Homo sapiens: one gene and its partners. The protein of the gene in region 2 purifies or fractionates together with the protein of the main gene of each other region. This does not show direct contact. Each region holds a gene or a part of one and is shown on either strand. Other genes may lie near its edges.

Region 1 (4,402 bases), on a different chromosome or scaffold from region 2:
CCCCGCCCACCTGCTTGGCCAGTGAGAACTGGATAGTGTGGCCAATGGCAGACAGACAACAGCTGTCATCAGTGACCAAGAAGAGTCCTTGTAGTGTGGTCAATAGAAGACCTGTGGCAGCTTCAGTCACCATGTATACCTGGCATGCTGGCAGTCAGGGCAACCCCCTTCAGTGTGCCTTCCTCACTGTGCCTGAGAGAGTGAGCCTGCCCCAGCTCGCCCAGGGTGAGGCTTGGCCACTGCATCTTTCTACCACCCACATCCCCTAATACTGTGTTCTCAGTAGACATCTGCTTAGTGGAGAGGCCTGTGAACACTGCACCCATCTTCATTGTTTTAAAAGACATTTCACTACGTGTTCAAGTTTAAAATCTAAAGTGTTTTAGAAACAAATTTTTCATCAGTTTCCTAACAGGATTTTGTTATGCTTTTAACTTAATTATTTATGGGTCTAAAACTGTTCAATTCCGTAATGAGTGTCTGTTATGTAACTAAAAGGGAAACACTTCAAACTTTTGTTTTCACTTAACTTTTCGGAAACACTCCTAAGTCAGAAACTGAAGAAGAATTGTACTGTCTACCCACAGCAGTCAGTTAACCTTTGCTAATTTCTCCTACAACTTATCCTAACAATAAAAATTGGTACTGCTATTAGATAAACAGATGCTAGGGCCAGGGGAATGGACAGGGCTGGGCTTCCCGCAAACAAGGTGGCACCACGCAAGGCCTGCAGTTCTTCCAAGGTGGCTAACAGCACCTGTCATGCAATTCCCTGCACTCTAAGACCTCTTCAGAAAGGCCTTGCCTGTCCTGTGAGATTACTTAGTGCTACTCAGGGGGAGCAAGGAAGGTGCCCCAGCCAGAACTCTCTCCATCACCTCCCTAAGGCGCTATTGAAGATAAGTGGATTTAGAGGTTAACAGGTTCTTATTTGAGAAAGAAAAAGCTCTTTGCAGGAATGATCAGTTTAAATACACTGCTTATCTTTTCATCCTTTCTTGAGGATTAAGATCAAGAAAGGGAGTGAGTTCATGGTGGGGGATGGGACAGGTCAGGGAAAGCAGGCTAGAGGGGCCAGGAACCTGGGAGCAGGGGCAGCATGAACCAAGACGAGTTTAGATCCCAGCAGAACCCGACTGTAAGCTTCCTGAGGGGCGGGACCACGTCTTCCTCATCTTTGCATTCCCAAGTATGGGGCCCCGCACAAAGCAGATACTCAGTGTCTGCTGACGTGAAGAAAAGTTTCCGCCAGGCCAACAGTCTCTGACTATCTCATACATCATTTCTTCTCTCTCTTGCTGAAACCACTGTGAAGGGCACACCAGTTTCTACCATAAATTTGGGAGTCTTTTTTCTGCATCCTCCATTTGAATGTCAATTCCTATGGCAGGGACTTATTTGTCCCGTTTTATACTAAACATATTCAAGGAATATGCATCTTGTTATGACATCTCTCCACTCATTTATAACTTTTAGGCTGGATCATGCTATATTCATCTAATACATCATCGAATGTATTAATTCAACTTCTGCTGTGGCTGGGAATGAAAAGAATGAAGAGACAATGGAGGAAGCTGAAAGCGGATCAGAAGGTCGCTGTCATGGACAGGCAGGCACAGCAGCGGCCTCAGTGCTGCCCTCCCTTTCCTGCCAGGCATCCTCTCAGCTCACTCTCTTACCTCTAAGTATTTCCTTAAATTGCACCTTGGCGAGGAAGCCTGCTCTCACACCGCCCATAACACAGCAAACTCCTGCCATCACTCCCAAACCCAATGCCCCTCGTCCAGCGATCCTCCTTTCCAACAGCATTTATATTGTAACACACTATATAACTTAACATGTTTATTGTCAGCTCCCCAAGGTGGGATGTGACTCCACCAGCACCAAGAGCTTTGTTACTTATTCCCAGCACCAAGAATAGTACCTGGCCGAGCAGGTACATAAGAAATACTTGATGAATGAATGAAACAGTGAAAAGAAGACATAAACTTAATCCAAAAAGCCTAACCAGAAATGTTTTTAGCAACAGATGTAAAATTGAGAAATTCTTTAGAAGGTGGAAGCTGGGTGAAGGAAACAAAGGCTTCACAGCTGTAAATTCTCACAGAATACTCCTAGTTTGGGTAAAGAGAAAGGTGCTTGGTTTTAGTTTTACTCTGGGAATCTTGCCCCTTTGCCACAATCAGCTCTCATTTGGGTCACACCAGGAAAAGCAAGACTTCCATGTACCTTGTTCTCTGGGAAGGAAGAAATGAAACATCAATGAAGAGATACTGAGTGCAACAGAGACAAACAAGAGACACAGAACTGCTGGTCTAAGTCTTCCTCAGTTCACAGAGGTGCAGAGTGGTGGAAAATGCTTTGCCTGTCCCCCACACTGGGATCTGGGGCAGCTGTCTCACCTCTCAGAGCCTATGTGTCTTTAGAAGTGGGGAAAATAACCTACCGCATGAGGTCTACATGGGCATCCAGTAGGATAGTGGTGACAGAAGCCTCTACATAGATGTGCCGGGTGGCACATCACCAGCATGACCCCTGACCCTCACTCCTTCTTTACTCATCAGAGCCTTCCTGTCCCTCCAGACCTGCTGACCTCCACAGCACAGTGAGCTCCTCTCCTGAGTGGACTGAAATTCCCTGAAGACAGCAAGTAAGCCTTTTGCTTATTTTCTGTGCCTCAAGGTGCTTGGTACTAAGTTGGCAACCAAAGAAACGACAAGAACATTTTCACCACAAATGTATGTCCAGATACCAAGGCACACTGTGCTTCATCTGTGCTACTCTTAACCGTATGGCTTATACTCCAGAGACCGTGAGATCCCTGTTCACAGCTGCCCTGCACACATCAGCAGATTCAAATCTCTTTACCCTTGCTTCTGCTGTTCCTTCTGCCTGGACTGCCCTGCCTCCGTCCTTCTACTCTGGACACTCAGATATGCTCAAGAAACCTTCCTCAACCTTCACAGGCTGGAAGGGTTCTCCTGCAGGTTCCCACAGCATTCTGTGCTCCCCTCCACCATTCTACCTACAGCACCTAAAACTGCATTGGTCAAATGCCCTAAAACATAAAGAACTGACTAGGTAGATTACGGTATATCCATACGATGGAATAGTGTGCAGAAAATAAAAAAAGGAAGGGTGATTACAATAAAGTACCATTTCAGCAAAAAGAAAAAATAGGAAGAAATACATGTGAACATTTACTTGTTAATACGCGCAAAAAATATCCTTGGAGAATACATCAGAACTCACACTAGTGGTTGCCGCTGGGGAGGAAACCTTTCACTGTGTATGTACACATACACTTGTAACTTCTGAATTTGAACCATATGAATAAATTACCTATTTCAGTTAAAATAAGTAACATGGTACAAGTTGGTCATCTTCACTACGCTGAATTCTGTATGGGCAAGGACAAAGTCTTATTCATCCAGGACACCTACTTTAGCAACAGGCATGTAAACAGGTACTCACTAAATGTTTGCTGAATTGAACTAAACTTTTGAAAATAATCATATTATTTTCATGCTCTTAGACACCAGTTCTATCGGAAATCCTACATTTTCATCATCTAAGTCTGAAACAGATGGGGTTCTACTGATCTTTAAACAGGCCTCCCAGATTGCTTCCTGAAAAGACTGTACTGACTCAGGAAAAGGGCCGGAAGCACATCCTCTTAAAAGCACCTTTCAGACTGACCAAGCAATGTGACAGAACAGAAAGATACAGGTTCTAGTCCCAGGCTGGCCCCAAACTGTCCCTTCAGGTCACTCAGCCTCCTGCACATCTCAGATGAATCTATGAAGTAAGCTTCAACCTGGCTTCTAAAGTATAACAATGCTGCCGAGAGAGCAGTGCTGACAACATCTAAACTATCAGACAATCCCAAAATGTCCTCTGGGAATTTTTTTGGCAGCTAAGACCTTTCAAGGAAACCCGGAATTCTGATAACACATAAATACATCAACATACTAGAAAGCGAAGGAATATGGTAGTGGTATGATGTAGAATCTTGCTTCTTTCCTCTTTTTCTTTCTTCCCAATCTGGAACCAGGTGAAATACAAAGTACATAAAGGAATATTTAAGGATGAAAAATGGGGCAATAAACAAACAGATAAAGGCTAACAATATTATTGGGTTTTTTCTTAGCAGTGTTTCAATGGGATTAAATTCATCCTCTACGGGTCTCTAGGTAGCTGATTAGAGCAGTGCCTCTCAAGTCGCCTGGGGGCTTCCTAGAATCACAGGCAAGCAGTCCCACACCTGGGCACTCTGATGCGACAAATAAGTAAGGCATGGTCCACAGCCACAAGGAGCTTATAGTCCAGGATATAAATAACTCATGAGAAATGAAAAATGCAATCAAAAAGAGGCATAAAGTGCATGAAAATTAAGAGAGGG
Region 2 (4,402 bases):
ACACACTAGAACTTGCACCATGTCATTTAGAGTAAAACGGCTCGTCTGCTTGCAGTGTATTTGGAAAATCACGTTTGTAATGAAAATGCTCATGGTCAGTGAAGCGCCCCTGCAGGTGTGCCTGACACAGGGACTCTCCTTGAGCCAATCTCCACCCTCGGGCATCACTCTGCCCATGGAGTTCCTGTGGCAAGTGGGGCTTCCTTTGTTTTTCTGGGGTTTTTTGAGACAGGGTCTCATTCTGTTGTCCAGGCTGGAGCGCAGTGGCACAATGATAGCTCAATGCAGCCTTGTGTTTAAGTGATCCTCCTGCCTCAACCTCCAAACAGCTGGGACAACAGACGTGCACCACCACACCTGGCTAATTTTTGCACTTTTTTTGGAGATGGGGTTTTGGAGATGGGGGTCTTTCTATGTTGCCCAGGCTGCTTCCTTTTTTTGAGATGGAGTCCCGCTCTGTCACCCAGGCTGGAGTGCAGTGGCACAATCTCAGCTCACTGCAACCTCCACCTCCCGGGTTCAAGCGATTCTCCTACCTCGGCCTCTCGAATAGCTGGGATTACAGGCGCACGCCACCATGCCCAGCTAACTTTTGTATTTTTAGTAGAGACAGGGTCTCACCATATTGGCAAGCTGGTCTCAAACTCCTGACCTCAAATGGTCCACCCACCTCAGCCTCCCAAAGTGCCCGGCCCCCCTCTTCTTTTTTTTGTAGACAAGGTCTCACTCTGTCACCTTGCCTGGAATTCACCAGCGTGATCATGGCTCACTGCATACAGCCTCAACCTCCCGGGTTCAAGTGATCCTCCCCCAACAGCTTACTGAATATTCTCTGTGCTGATGGGATCTATGTTGCCCAGGCTACTTTTTAAATTTGTTTTGAGACAGGGTCTTGCTCTGTTGCCCAGGCTGGTGTGGAGTGGTATGATCATGACTCACTCCAGCCTTAATCTCCCTGGCTCAAGTGATCCTCCCACCTCAGCCTCCTGAGTAGCTGGGAATACAGGCACGTGCCATTAAACCTGGCTAGCTTTTGCATTTTTAGTAGAGACAGGGTTTTGCCCAGGTTGGTCTCGAACTCCTGGGATCCACTGATCTTCCCACATCGGCTTCCCAAAGTGTTGGAATTACAGACATGAGTCACAGTCCCAGGCCCAGGCTGCTTCCTAACTTCCTAGTCTGGGCTACAGTGACCACCAACTTTGCAATTATATCATGTATTTTACTGCCACTTCAATTCTAATGCTTCTAATTTCAGCTTCTATTTTCTTTAATGTGAAGAGAAATACAGATGTACGTAAATGACCAAAACCCCTGCAGACTGTGAAAGGCCCTGACTGCCTGTGTGTGGGGTTCAACTCTTCATTCTAAAGGGAGAGGAAGACGATCCATCAAAAACAGTCATCCAGGCCGGGCACGGTGGCTCATGCCTGTATCCCAGGACTCTGGGAGGTCAAGCTGAGCGAATCACTTGAGGTCAGGAGTTCCAGACCAGCCTGGCCAACATGGTGAAACCCCATCTCTACTAAAACTACAAAAATTAGCCGGGAGTGCTGGCGGGCACCTGTAATTACAGCTACTCAGGAGGCAGAGGCAGGAGAATCGCTTGAACCCAAGAGGCGGAGGCTGCATAGTGGCAGAGGCTGCAGTGAGCTGAGATGGCGCCACTGCACTCCAGCCTCAGTGACAGAGCGAGACTCTGTCTCAAAAAAAAAAAAAAAAAAAAAAAAAGAAACAGTCATCAAGAGGGTCCACCCCACTTCAAATGATCACTGTGTTCTAATGAGGAAACTGCTCATGAATCCACTTAGTGAAACTGAATTCTTAACAGTTCTAGCAGAAAATTTCAAATACACACAAAGGTAACTTAGAGGGTAGTTCCTAATGGTTAACCTGTAACCACATAACCTTTATCATCCTCTCTCTGTATGTATATGTACGTGTGTATATATGTATGACTATGTACGTATGCATATACACATATTTCTATTTCTGATCCATTTGAGTAAATTGCAGACATGATGTTCTTTTACCCCAAAATATGTCCATGTGTATTTCCAAAGAACAAAGACACTCTCTTACATAACCACAGCAGAATTACCCAAATCAGGAAATTAACATTGGTACAAACTACTCACATTTTCCCCGTTAAATGTGAGAACAGGCCGGGCACAGTGGCTCACGTCTGTAATCCCAGCACTTTGGGAGGCTGAGGCGGGTGGATCAGGAGGTCAGCAGATAGAGACCATCCTGGCTAATAAAGTGAAACCCCGTCTCCACTAAAAATAAAAAAATTAGCCATGCATGGTGGCACACGCCTGTAGTCCCAGCTACTCGGGAGGCTGAGGCAGGAGAATCGCTTGAACCTGGGAGGTGGAGGTTGCAGCGAGCCAAGGTTGCGCCACTGCACTCCAGCCTGGGCGACAGAATGAGACTCCGTCTCAAAGAAAAAAAAAAAAGGATATTTTTTCCTACACGCTTACGGTTAAGAGTTTGCTTGGTGCCTGTAATCCTGGCACTCTGAGAGGCCAAGACAGGAGAATTGCTTGGGCTGAGGAGCTTAAGACCAGCCAGGGCAACATAGTGAGACCCTGTCTCTACACAAAATTTAAAAATTAGCTGGGTGTGGTAGTGCACTGATAGTCCCGAATACTAGGGATGCTGGGGCAGGAGGGTGGCTTGAATCCAGGAGCTCAAGCCTGCCCTGAACCATGATTGTGCCACTGTACTCCAGTCTGGGTAACAGAGTGAGACCCTGTCTCCAAAAAAAAAAGTTTGCTTGGCATTATAAAGGAAATAAAAGGAGTGCACACAGAAAGTTTGCTTGGCACACCTGTCACGACACCTGTAAGTGGTGCTGGTCTCATGAGTAGAACAGATCTGTGAATGACAATTCTAATTTGTTGGGTCAGAATTTTCTCATTCATGTCTCCTCTTTCTCTATAGCCAATGTCAGCTGATGACCAGTTTAAGAAATAACATTGGCCGGGCGCGGTGGCTCATGCCTGTAATCCCAGCACTTTGGGAGGCCGAGGCGGGCAGATCCTGAGGTCAGGAGATCGAAAGCATCCTGGCTAACACGGTGAAACCCCGTCTCTACTAAAAATACAAAAAAAATTAGCCGGGCGTGGTTCGGGCACCTATAATCCCAGCTACTAGGGAGGCTGAGGCAGGAGAATGGCGGGAACCCGGGAGGCAGAGCTTGCAGTGAGCCGAGATTGGAGATCGCACCACTGCACCCCAGCCTGGATGACAGAGCGAGACTCTGTCTCGAAAAAAAAAAAAAAAAAAAAAGAAAAGAAAAGAAATAACATCAACTAGAATAGTGCAAACTGCCTGCAAATTCCTTCCACTGTGGCCAACTTCCCAAGTGTGAGGAGGTCTGTGAGGAGCACCAAGACCAGCCACTTTGGCCTCCATCATTCTCACAAATACCTTTCCAGTCAGTGGGGAGGAAATAATCCCATTGCCGATGTTCTTCTTGGAGTGATCTGGAATCACACTCGGGCGGCCGGGAAGGGAGGAGGAGCCTGTCCTGGAGATGAGGCCCTCGGGACTTTTCTTAGAGCCTGGAATTCTGTCAAAGGAAGAAAACAAGTAGGGAATTCTCTTACTAGGCATTACAGAAACGGAGAGAATTAGAATAAGTTAAGGCGGGGCAAAGGCAGAAACACGGCCTGGGGAAACCCTGCCAGTCCTAACCACTTCTCTGGAATCTCCCTTTGCCTTTCAACCACAGTGAGGCTGAGAGATCAGCCCCAAGTATCTGCTGAATATAAGCAGAGCAAGGGCAAATTAGAGTCAGAATTCCTCCAAGATCAGAGTTCAATGCACCAGAAAGCAAGAACCTCAAACACCTCAGCCACACTCTGCAGAGACGTACAAAGCAGCAAAAATGCCTCAGCTGCCACGGTCTCCAGCCTCCAGGTCAGTGACAGCCAGCTCCAGGAGAAGGCCCCTCCAGAGAAGCTCTGCAGCAGCACCCCCACAAACACGTCCTTCCCAGCATATCCCTACAGGGGCAGCTTCCCCACACGGGAAGGGGCATTGGCTGGCTACCATCCAGGGAGCAGTACCTCTAATTTGGGGCAATACTATAAATGGTGACTTTCCTGTTTACATTCAAAACAGCATCAATGTGAGGGCAGATGGGATCCTGTCCTGACCTTCCCAAGGCTCTGGCTTTACTAAAAAGTGTCCTTCCCTGTGGACGGTCTCTATGACACATGACAAATCCCTCCAGTGGAATTCCCAATTACCTTCAAACAAAAAAAGGTTAGGGAGGCCCACCGGTATAAGAAAAGAGCAGAGGGAGTGAGCTCATCTGGGGAGGGCGTGAGTTTATTACCGCAGATAGAACAGCACGTAGGCCTGCTGGTTCAGAACCACCTTGACGTTGCTG
Region 3 (3,500 bases), on a different chromosome or scaffold from region 2:
TGTGCCACTGTGCCTGGCTTAAACAAATGTTTAAGAAACTTGACATTTATGATGTAACTGGAATTGGAACACTGGTAATTTGTTGATATTGCTATCTTTTTAAGGGTACAATAATGGTATTGTGGCTGTGTTGTTAGTAAACAGCCCTTATCTGTTACAAGTCATTGTGAAATATTCATAGATAAAATGATGTCTGGAAGTATGTGGAGGGGGTAAGAGCTGAAACAAAGGTGGCCATGGGTGGTGATTATTGCATCTGATTGCATAGGGTTTCATTATACTTTTCTGTTATTTTTTGTGTATGCTTGACTTTTCCCATAATAACATAATGTTTTGAAAAGAGTAAGACAGGGCCTTGGCTGCTGGGATGATTAGTTTGGGTGATGGTGGTGGAAAATGGAATCGTAATGGGAGGGACTCCTCCTAACACAGCAGCAATAAAACCACTGTCAATTACTAACTGCCTAGGAGCCCAGCACTGTGCTAAGCCCCATCACAGCACCCCTATGGGACAGGTACTATTGCTATCCTCCCTTACAGAGGAGGAAACGGAGGTTCAGGGAGGTTTAGAAACCTGCCAAAGGTCAGCTAGGAAGCAATTCAGAAAAGCTGGGACAGTCCAGGCAGGCCGACCTGGAACCTGCCCTCTTAACCACCTGACTGCCTTTAGCCCATTTCTCCTCCCAAGACCCTGAAGCGGTTGGCCTTAGAATCCACTGCTGGGATCTGAGCGTGAATTTTTGCTCCCAGACCAGTGCTCTTTCTACTCTGCCACCATGCCAATTAAAAAAAAGAAGCATATTATTTTTCTTACATAAAAATTTCATTACTATAGAAATGTGTAAAGTATGAACACTGCAATGTGTCAGTGAGAGGCAGGACACCTATTAAAAGAGCTCCAGATGAAGGCTACTAGAGGGCGTCCTTCCATGGAGAGTGGAAGGAGACCTGTTTCTCTGTAATGCTGACTTTTCCCAGGGCTGTCCTATCTCCTTTTCAGCACAGCAAGTGGCCTCTGATGCCAGGAGGAAGCCCTGAGTGAGTCCAGCTGCCTGGGGCCCCTGGTGCTACCAGCCAGGGCTGAACTACTAGCATCTACCTCAAATTGCCTCCCTCACAGGCAAGCCCTGTACCCTAGAGACAAAGCCCCTTCTTTGCTCACTTTACCCTTTCCGTGGAGAGTTTAAGGCAGTTCTGCTTGGTAAAAATGGATGGGATGGGGACTGTTAGCATGCTGTTATTTCCAGCGCCCATAACAGCTTACCCTCCCAAGCTCCTCCACCCTGGCTATTAACAGCTCCCTCTGCCACTCGTGGGACAGGTGGCAAACCACAGGCAAAAATAACTCAATGCTCATAGCTTAATGGACAATCTAATTTTTTTCTAGATGTCCATTTCCCTTTTATCAATAGCACTCTCAATATTTAAGCTTACGATATATGTAAACATGTACAACAATATTTATAGTAGCACTATTCACTATAGCTCAAACTGGAAACTACCCCAAATGTCATCAGTGGTAGAATAGATCAATAAACTGTCATATATTTATAGAGTGTAATACTACAGAGCAAGGAAAATGAATGAATACAAGCATACTCAACGACATGGATAGATTTCACAATACTAAGTTGAGCAAAAGGAGTCGGACCCAGAAGAGGACAAGATTTCATTTTTACAAAATTCAAGACAGATGAAACCCATCTCTGCTTTGATAAGAAAGGACAGTGGTTACCCTTGGAGGAAATACTGACTGGGAGTGGGGCTGAGGGAGACTTCTGGGGTGCTGGTAAGGGTCTGCTTCAGGATCTTGGTGCTGGTTGCAAAGTGGGGTTCACTTTGAGAAAAATTCATCAAGCTCTATGCTAATGATTTGCTTTTACACAATACCCCAATAAAAATTTCAAAAATATATGCAGAATTAAAACAAAGTTAGCTTCTCTCTAGTGAAACTGTTCAACTACACATAAAGACAGAGCTTGACATGGGACCCCAGCGGAGGGACAGCCAGTTGACAATGATCAGCTTCACAAGAACTTGCCTGAACAGTGGCCTATTCTATGGCACTTCTACTGAAGTCTCAGGACCTTACCTATATCTTCTTTGAGGTCAATTTCGGCTGTGGTTGGGTGGACAATGCCCTCCACTCTCATGGAGCCAATATGGCTGATGTCACTCTGGGTTAAGGACAGCTGCATTAGGAAGAAAAGGTGGTGAATGTGGAAAAGATAAAATTCTGTTGAAAAATCTCATATTTTACTTGCATTCATTAATTCTCTTTAATTATTCATACCCAATGTCAACATAGGGGCTGCATAGAGAGTGACAACCTCCAGTTTCCCAGGTGTTTGGCTTGCAATAAGCTCTTTGAGCTCAGTGGATTTGCTTTCCACTCTGGGGCTGGCAGCATGCAACAAATCCATTTCTTCTTCCCTGGAACAGGAACAGGGCCTCCCCTCTCTTTTTTTTTTTTTTTTTGAGACGGAGTCTCACTCTGTCTCCCAGGCTGGAGTGCAGTGGCGTGATCTCGGCTCACTGCAAGCTCTGCCTCCCAGGTTCACGCCATTCTCCTGCCTCAGCCTCCTGAGTAGCTGGGACTACAGGCGCCCGCCACCATGCCCAGCTAATTTTTTGTATTTTTAGTAGAGACGGAGTTTCATCGTGTTAGCCAGGATGATCTTGATCTCCCGACCTCTTGATCCACCCGCCTCTGCCTCCCAAAGTGCTGGGATTACAGGCGTGAGCCACCGCGCCTGGCCCCCTCTCCTTTCTTTCTTTCCCTTACAGCTCATGCCTTTGGTTCCCAACCCTGGTGGCCTTAGTTTTCAGTGATGCATCTTCTGAGAAGCTCCTGCAAGGAAGCCCAGGGCTTGCTCTCTCTTCTCCCCTCAGCATCCTGCATTCTCCCTAGAAGAACACAAAATCTGTGGGGCAGGGCTCTGAAGCCAATAACCTTGCTGGAGAGAAGTAATGGGCTCTGGGATTCTGACCTGGGGGTGTCTGGCTCCCTTGCCCTTTGGAGACCACAGTCTTGGGGCTACCATTGGGAATTGCTATCCTATGTGTTCACAGTAGAGTGGAATGGAGGGCATTCTCTATTGTTGGCCCATGTGAGCAAGACCTTTATGTTGCCTTAGCTAAGTGAGAGAAAGCTAATCGTCATGTAACAGTGAACAGGCCAGAGAGGGGACATAAATTCCACCTCTTTGTTTCCCTGCTTTCATCAGTGACGAATTAGCAACCAGCCACACCGATGCTCTTCTTAGAACATACTCTTCCCAATTCTTTGAATGGAGGCTTACTGTGTTGTCAAGATGGAAACATTCAGCTACCAGAGATATGATTAACTGACTCTTTCCTTGGGTGTCTTATTTCAGCCCCAGTTGACTTGGTAGATAAATTGTCTGCTCAGTAAACTTTACACTTGTAGGAATGAATTATTTGCATGTCTGGTTGGGCTGCTGTTGTGTTGCTGAAGACTGTTCAAATGCATAGCCCTG
Region 4 (4,402 bases), on a different chromosome or scaffold from region 2:
CATAACAGCATTTTTATAACTACATCATGTATCAGTTTTATCTGACATTTTCAATTTAATTCAGCAATACTTCACAGTGAACATGCAGCATCTCTTTATATGAAACAGATACTCAAAAAATATAAGCAGGTAATAATTTTTTAAAAATCATATAAAAGTTAATGTGAAGAGACTCAGAAAATAAATCATTTGAGCAGATTCTTTAAGTCTTCAAAACAAAAGGCAGGTGTAATTTATTTTTTTAACTTTTTGTAGAGATGGGATCTTGCTTGCTATGTTGCCCAGGCTGGGCTCAAATTCCTGGCTTCAAGCAATCCTCCCGCTTTGGCCTCTGAAAGTGCTGGAATTACAGGCATTATCCATCATGCCTGGCCGGGAGGTGCGATTTTATTTCAAGAAAGTATTTAGCATTTAAAGTGGAGATATACTGACTAGTCAGTAGTGCTAGCATTTATTTTCTTTTCACATTGACACTTGGAAAATAAGAAATGAGTTCAATTGAACCCATTTAATATGAAAGTCTTTGTTTAGTCACAAATTTATTTTTACAACAAAGCACTTTTGAGATAATTTAAAATACACATGCTTTGATTGAAGAGTGATTGCAAATGGGTCCAGTTTTCTTCCACCTGGGATGACAAATTTGTTATTTCTTCTAGGAGTACTGGCTCTGAAGGAAGCATTTTAAGGTGTAACTGCAAAGAAAAATATGATGATTGAACATTTAAGAAAATTAAAATTTTACCTAATCTGGATTCAATTTTTCTACCAAGGAACCACAAAAGACACTAGGTGAATATTTGTTTTCTTAAGCGCTGGTTTATTACTATCTCCCATTTTCCCCTCCTCTATCAAACTTTTTTTATTATAAGGTCCTTTATGATACTGTGACTTCCTTGGTAGAATTAAAGTGGTCATCACTCCTCTCCACCTAAGGACAGTCCTGATACTTTTAAATAATCAGATCAAGTGAACTCATTTTAGGTATAAATGGGATAAAGAATCAAATCTATTATCACCAAAAATCGGCATCATCTACCTCCTTCAACACATTATACCACTAAAGTAGACCCTCAAAACATGAGTTCACCACTATATTAATCATAAAAGTAACAGTCTTATTGTCAAATGATCAAAACTCCTTTAATAATGATAGAAGTGAACATTTTGATTTCAGTAGTAGAAAAAAAAACAAACAAACCCAACTTTCTATTCATAATCACAAAAAACTTCCAAAATGTAACTAACCACTAAAAAAAGAAAAGTTAATGGTTCAGCACATTGGATCAAGCAGATAGCATAAAAATGTCAGGGGGTAAAGTCAAAATTATTGTGCAGTTGAGTAAAAAAACAAAACAAGACTCCCAAGCTGCACTGTCTAGCTGTCCAATGTGGTAGTCACTAGCCACATGCGGTTATTTAAATTTAAATTAATTAAAATTCTATAAAATTAAAAATCCAGTTTCTTGATCACACTATTTACATTTCAAGAACTCAATAGCTACATGTGGCAAGTGGCTATGATACTGGAAAGGATGGATATACAGCATACCCATCTTTGCAGAAAGTTCTGTTAGATAGCACTGCCCCAGAAGAAGACAAGCTGGGCAGTACTGTCTTACATTAGACTTACCTTTAGAAACAATGCAAGGTATGCCTGGGCTAACTCAAAATCACGCTTTCTGTCCAGCATCATCCCAATCATTTTCAAGAAGCTCTGCATAACTTCTATGGACCCACCACAATCAGGAGACAAGCTTCGCAGCTCTGTTTCAATTCCTGATGGGCCTGATTCTTTCAGAAGGTTGAGAGCAGTGTCATCTGCATTAAATTTTAATCCAGTTATGACTTGATTATAATCATTTAACTTAGAAAATTACAGTTTTCCTTTTATACCCCAAATAGGATATATTTAAATGGTACAGGAAATTCTTCCTGTGGGTTAATTTTTTCATATTATGTAGTAGAATGAAACCCAAAATAATTGAAAATCAGTACAAACGATGACACCAATATAAGAGAAAGTACTCAAAACACATTTTTTTTCTGTAATTTAAACCTTTTTCCTGTTAATAAAGAAAATCTAATGCCTTGCAACAGGCACGTTAGAATTTTAAAATGCTCATATATCTTCTCTCAGAGTAAATCCTAATTAAGAAGCCTATAACGATACATACAAAAGTATTAATAGTGGTTAGCATTGGGAATCTGATGAGGTAAAATAATTTTTCTTTTCTATTGTTATAAAGTTATAAAAGTACATAATCATTAGGAACTATATTACTAACAGTACAGAATATATAAAATCAGAGGGGGAAGACCCCATCCCTTATTCTTACCCAGCCCAAACCTACTTCTTTTCCCTAGAAGAATTGTTTCATATGCACCCTAGGAAAACACACTCAGTACACTTACAGCTATTTTTATGAGTCATTTGAGAACTGCAATGACTATGCTTTAGCTTTCTGAAAAAGAGTATCACCAATGACAAAAGTCTAATCACTTTTAGATCCTTCAGTATATAGTAAACAATAGTGTTTTTATTTCTTTGTCTCCCCATAAACATAACAAGTCATTTACAAGGGCTCATCAGTATCATTCTCTGACTTTTGCTAATGTGGACTCAAGTAATCTCGGTATGAAAACAAAAGCATTTGAATCAAAACAAGAGGACAAGTTAAAATTATTAGGAGAGTGACTACAGTTTTTTAAATGATTACAGTTCTTATGGCTAATCACTATTAGCTACAGACTGTAGCCTTCGAAATTTAAATATATGAACACAACAGACAGATTAAAACATTTCCTTTTTAATAAAATAATTTAGGAATATATGAAATCACCTAAGCAGTCCGCTGAATTACAAATTATAAATAAAAACAAAAGACTTGCAAATTACTTGCTACAAAAACGACAAACAAAACTTTTACATTTAATTCACAACAAGAAGGATCTCCTTATTATAAATATAGTCAATAACTGTGTCCATCTCCAATAGCAAAAAGTAAGTTAGATATATGAAAAATCTTCAACAGATTTTTATAATATCAATACCATTTGAGTTTAGTGGGCTTATTTAATATAAATGCTAAAATTACGTCAAATTAAAACCAAAATTTCAATCTTTTTGATTTTTACTATCTTAACTACTGAGAACGCTGATATTTCCTTCAATTTCTCCTCATATACAGTAAAATAAGCTAAATATATTAGTTAAAATATCTTATAATTCAACTTACACTTATTATTTACCAGTCCTTCTTCAAGTTTCAAGCAGAAATCTGATTTTTGAGCCAAAACTCCAAGATTTACCACTTTAGACTTAAACAAAAACAAATACACATTATTCAAATAATTCAAGTATCACCCAAAAATGTATAGTTTGTAATTAAAAGCTATCATTAATTTACCCTATATCTGTAAAACTAGGTCTTGGTAAAGAAGTGCAGAAAACACATACAAACATACACCGATATACTTAGAATCTTCTAATTTGTTTTTTACCTGCTGGGGATCATTATTTTGTTCAGGTGCAGCATATCTGGGTACAAGGCCAGGAATTGTTGGAATGAAAAATGGTGCTGATTTGGGTACTTTGGGTGGTTCCTTTGGTTTATTCTTTTTCTGATTAAGAGAAAATGAGAAAGAAAAATAGGAATTATCTTGCCAACAGTTTCTCATATTTAATTTCAAATCAATTTTAAAACAAATACCAAAAAGTAAAAGAGGAATGAAACTCTTTCACATAAGAATGTTAAAATATGATCTCTTCTGACCAATACCACAGCTATCCTTAACTTGGGCTTCCCAATGCAGATCTCTAGCACCCTTGCCGATAAGGCAGAAAAAAAGTGACAGGGCACAGGGGAAGTTCTAAGACAAACACAGCTCATTTTCCTGAAATATGAATATATTTACATGAAGATATAACAATTAAGTAATTTTAAACTTCCTTTTGTATTGAGTACAAACTCTTTCACAAAACAGGATGGAAAGCAAAATTTACATAAATGCTTAATACAAAAGAGTTTCTTAAATTACTTTTCTCCAAAGGAACTTTGGAGCCAGAAGCAGACTGACATTATAAGTAATTTGATAATTTCCTTTCAAAGTACAGCTCTAATTTTTCTATTTTGCTGGAATTTTTTCTTTAGTACCTTGTGCTTTTAAAATTCAAGAAAACATGATTGCTGGTTTATAAGTATTTCAAATGCTAGTAAAATTATATTAGCAAAAACTCTACTGAAATTTCCATTGAAAGAATTTTGTTTTGGTAAGTACACTGCTACATATCAGTATCTCAGGAACATTTTTTTTTTTGAGATGGAATTTCACTCCATTGCCTAGGCTGGAGTGAAGTGGTGCGATCTCAGCTCACTGCAACCTCCGCCTCCCGGGTTCA
Region 5 (4,402 bases), on a different chromosome or scaffold from region 2:
CACCAAGGCTAACAGGGTTAAGGTCACATAGCTAGTAAGTGCCAGAGGCTGGTACCAGTCCATCTGGTACGAAAGCTGCTGTCAAAAAGCAAGTGTCGTCATCCCATAATATAAAGGAACACACTATGAGCAGTTATGTGACTTGCTCCAAATTACTCATTTTTTTTTTTTTTTTTTTTTGAGATGGAGTCTTGCTCTGTCACCCAGGCTGGAGTGCAGTGGTACTATCTCGGCTCACTGCAAGCTCCACCTCCCGGGTTCACGCCATTCTCCTGCCTCAGCCTCCCGAGTAGCTGGGACTACAGGCGCCCGCCACCACACCCACCTAATTTTTTGTATTTTTAGTAGAGACAGGGTTTCACCGTGTTAGCCAGGATGGTCTCGATCTCCTGACCTTGTGATCCGCCTGCCTCGGCCTCCCAAAGTGCTGGGATTACAGGTGTGAGCCACTGCGCCCGGCCCAAATTACCTATTTCTAAAGGGCAGAAACTAAATCCAAATCCATATCTGCTTATTTCCACATGGTTGTCTCCCAATCTGACTAGCACCTAGGAATAAGGACTTGATCAGTTTGTCTTTACTGAATGCTTCTGTCTGCCAAGCATGATATTAGGTACTTAATATATTTAATTATTACCCTTAATATATTTTATCATTAATTAAAACACAATTACATATGCGCCCATAAAAAGACACATGAAAGGATGATCACCAAAATGTTAATGGTAGTTATCTCAGGGTCATGATTTTAATTTTCTTCTTCATAATTTTTAAAAAATAAAGTAAAACTTCAGTAAACAAAATATGTAATAAACTAACATCCTCCCAGATTACTTAGCTCCAGTCCATTTCCAATATGCTAAAAAGAAGAACCAGATTTCTTAACTTTATGAATTTTGAGTAGAAAAGATCCAGATATCCCAGAAAAAGTCTCCATTTACCTTTGTTCCTATGACTACCTGTCTATCACCAGGTACAAAGAATGAGCAAAGTGCATATTCACAGGTCATTGTGCGAATACACTGCAGTGTAGACCTATGAGAAAGAAAAAATAAAGAACTCATGTTAAGAGAATCTGCATCCCCATTTTAGAGGTCAGTGTGTAGGTTTCAATGCACTTAGACAGATCAACATAAAAGAAGATAAAAGTCTTAAAAACCCTTGACTCACACACAATTATAGTCATGGGAGAAAATACTAAAAAGCACCAAACTTTGTTTACTTTATAAGGCCTCCAAATCCTAAGGAACAGAAATCACACAAAAGCAGAGTAGAAAAGTGTCTGCTGGGCTCCACGGAGCCCAATCTGCCATTACCAAGAAGTGAGTGAGTCTGAAGGATTACAAGTCAAATTAGTACATCATTACATATCCCTACATTTTTTATAGGACCACAAACATTAATTAATTAATCAAATATATATCAAATGTCCACTTAACAAACATTTACTGAATGCCCACTACATTACCAGGTACTGTTCTAGGTGCTGGAGATACAACAGTGGATGAAACAGCAGAGGTTCCTAATCTCATAAAGGTTAACATTCTTTGGGAATAATAAATATCTAAATATTTGGTATATCAGGTGTTAGGTGCTATAGAGCAACATAATGCTGGGAGAAGAGGATGAAGAGTGCAAGGAGTAGGGTAAGAATGATAGGACTGTCATCTGATAAGACACAGAAAAAGCTTATGGATAAATGGGGAAGATGGATTCAGGCAGAAAGAACAGGGAGCACAACAGCCATAAGAAAGGCACATTCTTGTTCTGTTGAAGGAATAGCAAGAAGACCAGTGTGGCTCTAGTGGAGCAGAAAAGGAGAGTAGTAAGAGATAAGGTGTGTAAGGTAGGTAGAGTGAGATGGAACTACTGGAAGTGATCTAACTTCCACTATAAAAAGATTACACTGGCTACTGTGTTGAGAACAGACTATAGAGGGGCAAGCAAGAAAGCAGGGACACCAGTCAGGGGGCTTTACAATAACCCAGATGAGAGATGACAGTGGTTTGAATGGGGTAGTGGCAGTGCAGGTGGTAAGATGAGGCTGGATTTGGGATCACTTTTGAAGGTAGAGCTGATAGGATTTGCTAATAGATTGGATGAATATGGGATACGAAAATCAACAATGGGCTGGGTGCGGTGGCTCATGCCTGTAATCCCAGCACTTTGGGAGACCGAGATGGGTGGATCACTTGAGGTCAGGAGTTTGAGGCCAACATGGTAAAACTCTGTCTCTACTAAAAATACAAAAATTAGCCAGGCGTGGTGGCACACGCCTGTAATCCCAGCTACTCGGGAGGCTGACACAGGAAAACCACTTGAACCCAGGAGGTGGAGGTTGCAGTGAGGCGAGATCACATCAATGCACTCCAGCCTGGGCGACAGAGCGAGCCTCTGTCTCAAAATAAATAAATAAATAAAAGAAAATCAAGAATGGCTACAAGGTTTAGACTACAACTGGTAGCAAGTAATCATTTATTAAGATAGGGAAGTCTGAAGGAATAGCAGGTGGGAAGATTTTTGGAGACATGAACAACGTAAGTTTGGTTTGGGACACATAAAAGTTTGAAATGCTTAATTAGACATCCAAGTGGTGACACAAAGTATTTGTATATATGAATTTGATGTTTAGGGAGGAGGTTAAAGCTGGATATAAATTTATGTGTCATCATACAGAGAAAGCTACATGACAGATTACATAAAGTGAGTTTAGATACACAAAAGGTCCAAAGACTCTGCCCTAAAGCACTCTAACACTTAGACGTCATAAAGATAAGAAAGATGGAGCGAGGACTGAGAATAAACAGACAGCAAGGGAAGGGGAAATAATGAAAGTCAAAGAGTGTGTCAAAGACAGAAAGTCATCAATTCAAGGACAAAGCATAAAATAAAGCTTTTAGCTCAATGGATTTGGAAACAAGATCACTGATGACAATGACTGTTTTGGTGAAACAGTGGGGACAAAAGCTTGATGGGAGACAGATGAAGACAGAATGGAGAAAACAAATCAGAGAATGGGGTAGTAACTGGAGAGCAATGCAGGGGTGAGAGAGGGTTATTATTTCCTTTAAGGTGGGAGATATGATCATTAGCTTCAAGGTTTTGGAGGTATTTGATTTGACAACAGAAGCAAGGTATAAAACAGTCATCTGGGAAAGTAAAAGAAGGGTGAGAAATTAGGGTACAATTACTGGGCAGCAATAACAGCCTGCTTTTTATTAAGTTTAAAGAGTAGGTAGTATGGTTGTGTGTTTTTCTCTAGCCAAGTACAGTTACAAGCTCTAAACATGGAATAAGCTTGCCTTTTTTTTTTTTTGCACCACATTTTAAAAGGCAACTTTTTCTTCTCTAAGCTCCACAGGCTAATGGCCCAAATGCACTAAAGATAATTGTATTTAGGGCCTTAAGGAGTTAATAACTAACCCTTAAGAGTACCAAAAAAAATTAAAAGAAATACTACTAACTACAGCTATATAAAACATCATTTCACGAACCTGTTCCATATTTTAATGGAATCAGCTGCAGCTGAAAGAACAGCAATATTGTCTGAGCTGAATGACAAAGTCCGCACATCACTGCGATGACCCCCAATAGTGATTCTGCTTGTCCTGACAGGCTGAGGAGTAGGCAAGGATGGATTCAGTGAATACAATTCCACCAGGTTGTTCTGCAGCAGGAAGACAGCCTTTAACTCTCCGTGAGGTGAATGAATCAAGTCAAAGGACCTGTACAAGAAAATAATCATAAATGTTCTAGCTACCATCTTAGCTCACAAGGTTTACTTTTTCCAGGAAAAGGCTTTACAATGTCCTCTATCTATATAAAGTTTGAATAACTATAAACAATTTTTCAAGTAAGAGTGCCCTGAGGCTGGGTGCAGTGGCTCACGCCTGTAATCCCAGCATGTTGGGAGGCCGAGGCGGGTGGATCACTTGAGGTCAGGAGTTTGAGACCAGCCTGGCCAACATGGCGAAACACCATCTCCATTAAAAATACAAAAATTAGCTGAGTGTGGTGGCACAAGTCTGTAATCCCAGTTACTGCGGAGGGTGAGGCAGGAGAATCGCTTGAACCTGAGAGATGGAGGTTGCACTGAGCCGAGATCATGCCACTGCACTCCAGCCTGGGCAACAGAGCAAGACTCCATCTCAAAAAAAATTAAAAGAGTGCTCCGAGTATTGAGTAGTAGCTGAGTAGGCTTTTAAGTAAAAAAAAAAAAAAAAAAAAAAAACTAGGCTCAGATCCTGGTTCTGATACATACTTTGGTTCTGTGTATGTATTCTTTATAAGTGACCTTATATCCTTTCTGAACGTGGGACACACTTTTCTTTTTCTTAAATTAGCTGCAGGAAAAGACAGTAAATGACTAGCTAAAAAGGGTACTATAATAATCCAAATACAA
Region 6 (4,402 bases), on a different chromosome or scaffold from region 2:
GCAGAATGTGAGCCAACAGAAGATAAAGGAGCAAACTTGAAGACAGGGCAATTGAAATAATCCACACTGAGGAACAGAAAGAAAAAAGTACAGAGAAGAAACAACAGAGCCTCAGAGACCTGTGATGTATCATCAAGTGTAACAATTTACTGATCAAGAAAAAGAAGAAAGCCTCAAATTACTGAAATCAGGAATGACAGCAAGGGACCATCACAACCATATAGAAATAAAAAAGGGTCATATGGGGATACTAGGAACAAATATATGCTAATCAATTAGATAATCTACATCAAATGGGAAAAAAATTCCAAAAAAGACACAAACTATCAACACTGGCTCAAGAAGAAATAGATAATCTCAATAGACCTATAACATGTAAGATTGAATTAGCAATTAAGTAGCTCTGGACAAAGAAAAGCCTGGGACCAGAAGGTTTCACTGAACGCAGTCTACAAAACATTTAAAAAATGAACACCAATCCTTCACAAACTATTCCACACAACAGAAGAAAATGGAACATGTTCCAACCATTTTATGAGGCCAGTATTATCCTGATACCTGTACCTGCTGTTACACTGGACAAAGATATCACAAGAAAACTACAGATCAATATTGCTTATAACTACAAATGCAAAAATCCTTAACAAAATACCAGCAAAATGAATCCAGCAACATATTAAAAAAATCATTATATGTCATGACCAAGTGGGATATATCCCAGGAATGCAAGGTTGGCTCACCATTCAAAAACCAATATAATACACTATATTACTAAAATAAAAGACAAAAAAAAACATGATCATCTGAATAGAAGCAGAAAAACATTTGACAAAATCTAACATCATTCCTACAAAAACTCTCAGCAAACCAGGAACAAAAGGAAATTTCCTTATTCTGATAAAAACCTACAGCTGACATAGCACACTAAGTGAAGGAAGCCAGTCACAAAAGACCACATATTGTATGATTCCGCTAATATGAAATGTCCAGAGTTGGCAGATATATAGAGACAGAAAGCAGATTAGTGGCTTTTGGTGGTTGGAGAGAACTAAGAGGGAATGCTAATGGGTATGGAGTTTCTTTTGGGGGTGTTGAGATACTCTAAAATTAGGTAGTTATGATGGTTATACAACTCTGAATATATAAAAATCCACTTATATAGTTTAAAAGGCCAAATTTATAGTATGTAAACTATCTCAATAAAGCTATTATATAAATAAGAATGCACCCTTCAAAATTCCACAAGCCCTTGCTACAAATAACCATTTACCCAAAAAGGTTTACAGCTAGTTTTAAATGGTTCTTCACATGGCTGACCCTTGAACAACATGGATTTGAACTCCATGGGCCCACTTATACAAAAATTTTCTTCTGCCTCTGCCACCCCTGAGATACCAAGGCCAACTCTTCTTCTTCCCCCTCCTCCTCAGCTATTCGACATGAAGATGTGGAGGATGAAGACCTTCATGATGATGTTTCCATTTCAAGAACAGTAAATAAATTTTCTCTTCCTTATGATTTTCTTAATAACATTCTTTTTGTAACTTACTTTAATGTAAGAATACAGTATATATCAGGGGTCCCCAACCCCCAGGCCATGGACTGGTACCAATCCATGGCCTGTTAGGAACCGGGCTGCATAGCAGGACATGAGTGGTGGGGGCAGGGGGAGTAAGTGAGCAAGTGAAGCTTAATCTGTATTTACAGCTGCTCCCCATCACTCATTTTACACCTGAGCTCTGTCTCCTGTCAGATCAGCAGTAGCATTAGATTCTCATAGGAGTGTGAACCCTATTGTGAACAGTGCATTCAAGGGATCTAGGTTGTGTACTCCTTATGCAAATCTAATGCCTGATGATCTGTCACTGTCTCCCATCGTCATCAGAGGGAACCATCTAGTTGCAAGAAAACAAGCTCAGGGCTCCCACTGGTTTTATATTATGGTGAGTTGTATAGTGATTACATTACATATTACAGTGTAGTGATAATAGAAATAAAAAGTGCACAATAAATGTGATGTGCTTGAGTCATCCTGAAACCATCCCCGCCCCCCAACACCGTCTGTGGAAAAATTGTCTTCCCTGAAACTGATCTCTGGTGCCAAAACTAGGTTGGGGACAGATGTAGTAATATGTACATAACAAAATATGTATTAATCAATTGTTTGTTACTGGTACGGCTTCTGGTCAAGAGTAGGTTACCAGTAAGTAGTTAAGGTTTGGGAGGACTGAAAGTGATGCGTGAATTTTCGACCACGTGAGAGGCTGGTGCCCCTAACTTCCACGTTACTCAAGGGTCAAGTATATAAAGAACAATCTAGGGCCGGGCGCAGTGGCTAATGCCTGTAATCCCAGCACTTTAGGAGGCGGAAGCGAGTGGATCACCCGAGGTCAGGAGTTCGAGACCAGCCTGGCCAACATGGTGAAACCCCATCTCTACTAAAAATACAAAAATTAGCCAGAAATGGTGGCACACACCTGTAATCCCAGCTACTCAGGAAGCTGAGGTGGGAGAATCACTTGAATCCGGGAGGTGAAAGTTGCAGTGGGTCAAGATCAAACTCTGTCACTGCCTGGGTGACAGAGCAAGACTTTGTCTCAAAAAAAAGAACAATCTAAATCTTGTAGACTGCCTCAAAGATTCATTCCCATCACAAACCTATGTGTACCCGACATTTACGGTGCACACTCAATGCTGCAAAAGAGGACAAAAATCTCTAACAAAAAGGACATTTTTTCCCTGCCTATACAAAGACAGGCAAGTTTCCTCTTTATGAAATACAAACAGAAGAACCTGGAGGCTGGATGAGACTAACCTACAGGGCATGGAAGGCATGAGCACAGCCCACGGACACCCCCAGCTCACACTAACAGGGCAGGGTAGCCGCACTGCACACACAGCTCCCAGCAGGGCAGGACCACAACACTCACCTCGAGTTCTTCACTGTCTTTGGGCTTCTCTTCAGAGGTCTGTTTAACAAAGTCAGGGATGAGGATTTCCAGTGTAGCTCGGGCTATGAAAAAAAAGAGCCCGAGGGTGAGGCTTGGGCACTGCCCTCTTCTCACCACCCTGCAGAGTGAACTGTGCACTGCTGCCTCCCATCCCCACAGCTCAGAGGCTGAGCGAGGGCCCTGAGGAGAGACAGCACTTCAGTGACAGGGTCAGGAGAGGACAGAAGGAAAAGCCCAGACGTGTGGCAGGCTACCAGAAAGCCTCACGGGCCACACTGGGTGTGTGCGCTCTCACCCTGGGGTCCTGGGAGCAGGCAGGGAGGAGCTCGGAGCTGTATGTTAGGGAACCACTTCGGTGGCACGTGAGAAAACAGCTTTGCGGGCCCTGGACCATGCAGGGAGGCCTGAGAGCAGGCTACTGCAGGTACCTAGACCAGGTGGCAGCAGCAGTGGCTGGCGTGGGTGGAGAGATGCAGCCAGGTCTGAGAGACGCTAGAGGGAGCTGCTAGAGGGCAGGGCACGGATATGCCCACTGGGGTCGGAGTTGCCATAGCCAAGGGCTGATGGCTCCATAGACCCCACAGAGCTATCAGTGCTGGCAAGACATGGAGCCAAGCTGTCTATAGGGCAGCCAAGAGTCTGGGCAAGGGAAGTGGGTTCCAGCACATAGGGAGGAAAGCGGGTGATCCCGCAGAGGGAAGAGCACACAGCCACGCCCAAGGCATCTCCACCCCCACAAAAGGCCCCACTGCAAGTTATCTGTCAAAACCTCCACCACACCCCCTTTGTTGAGCTGCAAAAGTCTCTTAGGCAGAATCTAAGATGGGCAGCAGGCCTTCTGGAAAACACACGGCAATGACAGATACCTCGAGAATCAACCTGTGGGTGCGAGGGCCTGGGGTACACCCAACACCACCCTACAAGAAGCCAACTAACCCTGGACGCTGAGGCAAATGGCTTTTTGTGAAAGAATGTCAACTACCACGAATGCAGGGCATGAATGCAAACGGCAAGGGCATGGTCCAAAAGGGCAGTGGGTCTTCGCCAGGACACACAGCCTTCCCAGAGCTGCGCTGTGCCAGGTGTTCTGTGTGGCTAGGCCCAAACATGGAGTGGGAGGACTCAGGAAATAGTGCCGGTAAGAGCCAGCACCACTGGGGGAGGATGCCAACAGCATGCTGGCCCGCTTCTCCTCCCTCCTGGCATGCCCACATGCTGCTCAGTTTAAAAACAAACAAGCACTACAGCATGTGCCCAGCACAGCCCAGTTGGCTCTAGGCACACCCCTGAATATGTGCAGGGCCAGGACTAGGGAGGGACATACTGGCCCAGCTGTCACTCAGTAGAGAGGCCTTCTACTTTTTTTTTTTTAGACAGAGTCTTGCACTGTCGCCCAGGCTGGAGTGCAGTGGCACGATCTCAGCTCACTGCAAGCTCTGCCTCGCTTGTTC
Region 7 (4,402 bases), on a different chromosome or scaffold from region 2:
TTCTGAATCAGTGACCTTCCATGCCATATCCCTGAACTACTCTGGGTTGTATTCCATGGAGGTGCTTTCCTACCTCCACACTTTTGTGTATGTATTCCCCTCAGCTTAGACTCTGTTTCCTTTATGTCACTACCATTTTTATTAATAAATCAGTTTGACCCCATTGTTTTTACCCTAAGGATATTGTGACTTGCTTAGGACATGACTTCTCCTCTACATTATTTCTGATGTAATTGTAAATACCGTTTTCAACAGATCGATAAAGAATTGGCTAGTGGTGAATACTTTTTGAAGGCAAATCAGAAGAAGCGGCAGAAAATGGAAGCAATAAAGGTACGGCACTTTATGTCTGGCTCACATGAATAGCAAAGTTCATAGATACTTGAATTATTTAACTATAAATACATTTAACTGATATATTTTTTATTTATTAATGTAGGCTAAACAAGCAGAAGCCATCAGTAAGAGACAAGAGGAAAGAAACAAAGCATTTATTCCACCTAAGGAAAAACCAATTGTGAAACCTAAGGAAGGTAATGCTTTCTATGATGTAAAAGTCTTTATTAATTAGGAAAAGTAAACCCATAATAAATTTGTCTGAATCTTTTTAAGAAACAGTTGTATCTTTTCATCAGTTCTCTTAGCATTTCATTAATTACTAATCCTAAGGACAAGGGATGGCTGAGATAATTTATAATTTAGAGGCAGCTAATGCCTATTTCAGTGCAAACTGGATTGACAGTCCTCTCCTGACCTCTGGTCTGTGCTTGGAAAAGACTCTTTGTTGTGAAAGATACAAACCCAGGGCAGCCAGTGCATCTTCTGTAGAAATGCAAGAAGATCCCTGAGCTCTGCTGTCATGCCTCTCAAAGAGGAATTATCAGAAGTTGTACTTTTTCTTCTCTTTATGTGATCTTGGCTTAGAGTTTGGCTTCTATATCGGTAACATGGATTTCTCATCACCTTAGACTAAAGGATGCTGACAGGTCTTATTCAGGAGCTATTAGTGCGAAAGTGATTGTGGTTTTTAAATGGCAGAAATCACTTTCGCACTAACCTAGTATTTAAAAGACACTAAGAGAAAACATTGTCATGCCATTTCTTCTGATGCATCCTCTTCTGCATTTTTTTCCCCTGTGGTAACACTTATCCTCTTCCTAAAGTAACCCTCCAAAGTGAACAGTGACACACTGAAGGGAGAGGGCTCACCAGCAATATTGTACATAGACTGGGTCAGAAACAGATATAATACATTATTATTTTAATATATTGCTTGTTAATAGCTTTAAAAATACTACATTCTATGGTAGATTATTGGTTATATAAAAGGTAGAAATGTCATAAGTATTATAATTTCCAGTCTGTAAAACCTGTCAGTTGAGTGCTTTGAAGGTACTCAATATACTCAATAGCTAGTTACCCTAATTTAGTTTCTCCACACGGTGGAGGCTTTAACACTCTGTGCTTCTCAGGTTGCTGGGTAGTTTGATGTTTTATCTTATGATTCTTTTATGCTGTGATCCTGTACTTTGAATGGTAAGAAAAAGTTGCATTCTTTTTCACTGCTTCCTTTCTCTATTTTGTTCACACTTTTGGCATTGATTAGATAGTTGGCTTCTATTAGGGGGACTTCCACACACTCTCAAATTATTGTCTTTATTACCAAAATGTTGTTAAATATACCAAAATCTTGTTAAAATACTATTAATTAGTCATTCATTGAATTAATATTCAATGAATTAATCTAACATTAAATGAATTAATTCATTGAATATTCAATTAATATTGAATTAATATTTGGAAAACTTTAAATTTTCGTTTTGATATTAGAGGAAGTAGATTTTGACCTCTAGCTTAGGGTTAGCTGATTAAACTTATTGAGAAGGGATACATGTAATTTTAAATTATTTTAATGTGCAAGATGGAAAATAATGACTCAGAAGTTCCAAAATATGGAAAAGAATGTAGGTAAAATAATTTAGTCTGAAGTAGGATTTAAGGAAATAGTCTTAATATAGTTGAATCCAGTAATTGGTTCAATTATGCCATTTATGCCATTTTTATGTATACTTGTACTAATATATAAAGTATTTTATGATTTGTTTTATCTTAATCTGAAGAAATTTCTAACTGCTTTAGGCAAGTGTTTTTATATTTTATACTGTGATCACCTTTCAATTATTCAATTATAAGAATACTCTGAAGTTAACTGCCTTAAACATATATTCTTTGTTAAACATATATTCTTTGTTTTACTTGGTAAAATCTAAAGTATTACATGTGTTGTGCTTTTAATTTGTCTAGCTTCTACTGAAACTAAAATTGATGTGGCCAGCATCAAGGAAAAGGTTAAGAAAGCAAAGAATAAGAAACTGGGAGCTCTTACAGCTGAAGAAATTGCACTTAAGATGGAGGCAGATGAAAAGAAAAAGAAGAAAAAAAAGTAACATACCCAAAACTCCTTGACTAGAACTATCTCCTTTTGTAAAGGATTTTGAGATATCAGGCATTAGTTGCCTTATTTGTGAGAAATTTTCTGAGGGCTTTTTTTTTTTTTGGTGGTGGTGGTTGTTCATAGAAGAGTGTTCTTTATAAATTATATTATTATTGTATTTTTTGAAAAATTTATACGAGAAAGTGGTATATAAGTCTTTGTATACATTACGACCATTGTGATTATCCATTAAATCCAGTGTCTGATGCTATTGGTTAGTAATGATGTCCCAGCATTTGATGTTCCCTCTCTAATGATAACAAGTAAATATTTAGGTTTATCCCTTTTGAAAGTTTGGTTTTACTTTTAACAGTCCATGAACAGAAAATTAAGGCCTCTAAAATCAGATCCCCTAGTTACTCCTCTGTTCTGAATCTGGGGAAGTAGTAAACCAAAAAGACAGGGAAAACCAGATATTTAGAGTCGAAGCAGCATGCAAAAAATAATAATGTTTTTAACTAATGAAGGCTACTGGAGTTACTAAGAATCACCTAAAAATGTGCTACTGTACCTTGCTCATTTTGCAGATTTAGAAGCTGAAACATGGGTTAGGTTACTTACTAAAAGTCCACCTGTGGCAACCTGCAAATAATGCTTATTTATACTAAAGATGAGTTTATCTGATAGAGTTAGGAAATTTCTTCTTTTGAGTAAGAGTATTGCTATAACATATATTTTTTTCTGAAATGTTTTAAAATAGAAGTACACCTAATTGTTATTGGTTAAAAAAAAAGCCATATGTGAATGAGGTTGGTTTTTGGGTTTTTTCTTTCCTGAATTGTATTAGTCCAAAAGAACTAAATTAGGGTACTTGTGCTGTACCAAAATGGTAATTATAACAGACAGTATTAGAATTACTGAATTAACAATGAGAAAGAGAGAAGTGTATCTGTTACGTGGATATATGGGCCAGCCTGGATATACAACAGAGTAGTAACCTGTGAAACAAACATAGAATATCCTCTTAGACATTGTTCCTCATAATGCACTGACAGAATTCACATAGCTCTTAATGAAACAATTTAAGATTGATGTACGTACGTTTGACTTGGTCTCGCTGTCGGTTAACTGTAAAGTTAGGGGGAAGAAAGAAAAAAAATTAAAAGGGTAGACACAGTTGAGAGTTTTATTTTAAAAAGCTAAGTCTTATAATTATGACCATTAACTTGCTTTGGCTTTATTGCAGTGACTTTCCAAGTTTAATTATTCAAAACTTTTTGAACTGACTGAATTAACTTGGTATTTTTAAGTTGACTTTTTACATAAACTTTATAAACCTTTTATAAAAAGGAAACTATACCATTACTATAAATGGAAAATCATTTTACACATCATACCTAGCAGGTAATAAAATTTAAAAAATAAAAATTAAATATTAGAATGTGAGAAATTTATTAAAATATAGTTCTAAAAATAAGTTTCTTCCTGAGAAGAATGATACTGTTTATGATGAATCCATAGTGAAAAGACAGTGACCTCTCTTTCATCCAGTCTAGTATATCACTAAATCATCATTACGATGTTTGGCTATCAAGTCATTAATTACTGTCCTCCTTTCACTGAGCTTTATTCAAATTTTGACAATCAGAGCACTGGGAAGAAATAAATTCCACAACTGCCTTTAGCCTTCTGGATACTTTCTTTTATAAAATAGAAACCTTTTCCACACCAGTTCTGCAGCAGTCGCTATTAGATGCTCGTGGTAGAACCCATCAATCATCTGGTCCTCTGGGTACTGGTGAGCATCCCTGGTCTTCATACCTGTGAGTGGGCTTTGTGGTGAATTACTGTAAATATGCTACCCTCACTTTTCTTGGCAGTTATGTCGATGAAATCAAGAGTGTGATGTTCTAGTTATTTTTTTTTATATATATTTTTAAATGTTCAATATTCAACTATTGAAACAAA

Evidence for each region.
Region 1: the proteins of USP36 (region 2) and KIAA0232 purify together in Homo sapiens (affinity purification with mass spectrometry; 3 studies listed by BioGRID and IntAct, with this or other methods). This does not show direct contact.
Region 3: the proteins of USP36 (region 2) and MACROH2A2 purify together in Homo sapiens (affinity purification with mass spectrometry; 2 studies listed by BioGRID and IntAct, with this or other methods). This does not show direct contact.
Region 4: the proteins of USP36 (region 2) and WDR36 purify together in Homo sapiens (affinity purification with mass spectrometry; 2 studies listed by BioGRID and IntAct, with this or other methods). This does not show direct contact.
Region 5: the proteins of USP36 (region 2) and WDR3 purify together in Homo sapiens (affinity purification with mass spectrometry; 2 studies listed by BioGRID and IntAct, with this or other methods). This does not show direct contact.
Region 6: the proteins of USP36 (region 2) and DGCR8 purify together in Homo sapiens (affinity purification with western blotting; 3 studies listed by BioGRID, with this or other methods). This does not show direct contact.
Region 7: the proteins of USP36 (region 2) and KRR1 purify together in Homo sapiens (affinity purification with mass spectrometry; 2 studies listed by BioGRID and IntAct, with this or other methods). This does not show direct contact.

Annotation. Positions count from the first base shown.
Region 1 is NC_000004.12:6,865,834-6,870,235, reverse strand, and holds part of KIAA0232 (uncharacterized protein KIAA0232), read right to left. Parts: intron 4,045-4,402; coding exon of another isoform or gene 3,973-4,044; intron 1-3,972.
Region 2 is NC_000017.11:78,809,425-78,813,826, forward strand, and holds part of USP36 (ubiquitin carboxyl-terminal hydrolase 36), read right to left. Parts: coding exon 4,349-4,402; intron 3,578-4,348; coding exon 3,436-3,577; intron 1-3,435. UniProt on the Homo sapiens protein: Deubiquitinase essential for the regulation of nucleolar structure and function. Required for cell and organism viability.
Region 3 is NC_000010.11:70,094,346-70,097,845, reverse strand, and holds part of MACROH2A2 (core histone macro-H2A.2), read right to left. Parts: intron 2,193-3,500; coding exon 2,093-2,192; intron 1-2,092. UniProt on the Homo sapiens protein: Variant histone H2A which replaces conventional H2A in a subset of nucleosomes where it represses transcription. Nucleosomes wrap and compact DNA into chromatin, limiting DNA accessibility to the cellular machineries which require DNA as a template.
Region 4 is NC_000005.10:111,123,027-111,127,428, reverse strand, and holds part of WDR36 (WD repeat-containing protein 36), read right to left. Parts: intron 3,625-4,402; coding exon 3,505-3,624; intron 3,322-3,504; coding exon 3,240-3,321; intron 1,822-3,239; coding exon 1,634-1,821; intron 696-1,633; coding exon 546-695; 3' UTR 1-545. UniProt on the Homo sapiens protein: Part of the small subunit (SSU) processome, first precursor of the small eukaryotic ribosomal subunit.
Region 5 is NC_000001.11:117,942,719-117,947,120, reverse strand, and holds part of WDR3 (WD repeat-containing protein 3), read right to left. Parts: intron 3,726-4,402; coding exon 3,495-3,725; intron 1,036-3,494; coding exon 942-1,035; intron 1-941. UniProt on the Homo sapiens protein: Part of the small subunit (SSU) processome, first precursor of the small eukaryotic ribosomal subunit.
Region 6 is NC_000022.11:20,093,324-20,097,725, reverse strand, and holds part of DGCR8 (microprocessor complex subunit DGCR8), read right to left. Parts: intron 3,014-4,402; coding exon 2,931-3,013; intron 1-2,930.
Region 7 is NC_000012.12:75,497,854-75,502,255, reverse strand, and holds part of KRR1 (KRR1 small subunit processome component homolog), read left to right. Parts: exon of another isoform or gene 1-255; coding exon 256-333; exon of another isoform or gene 334-439; coding exon 440-533; exon of another isoform or gene 534-2,304; coding exon 2,305-2,447; 3' UTR 2,448-3,277; coding exon of another isoform or gene 3,278-3,432; 3' UTR 3,433-3,535; coding exon of another isoform or gene 3,536-3,562; 3' UTR 3,563-4,402. Other genes in the region: GLIPR1 (glioma pathogenesis-related protein 1 precursor), read right to left, coding at 3,278-3,432, 3,536-3,562. UniProt on the Homo sapiens protein: Part of the small subunit (SSU) processome, first precursor of the small eukaryotic ribosomal subunit.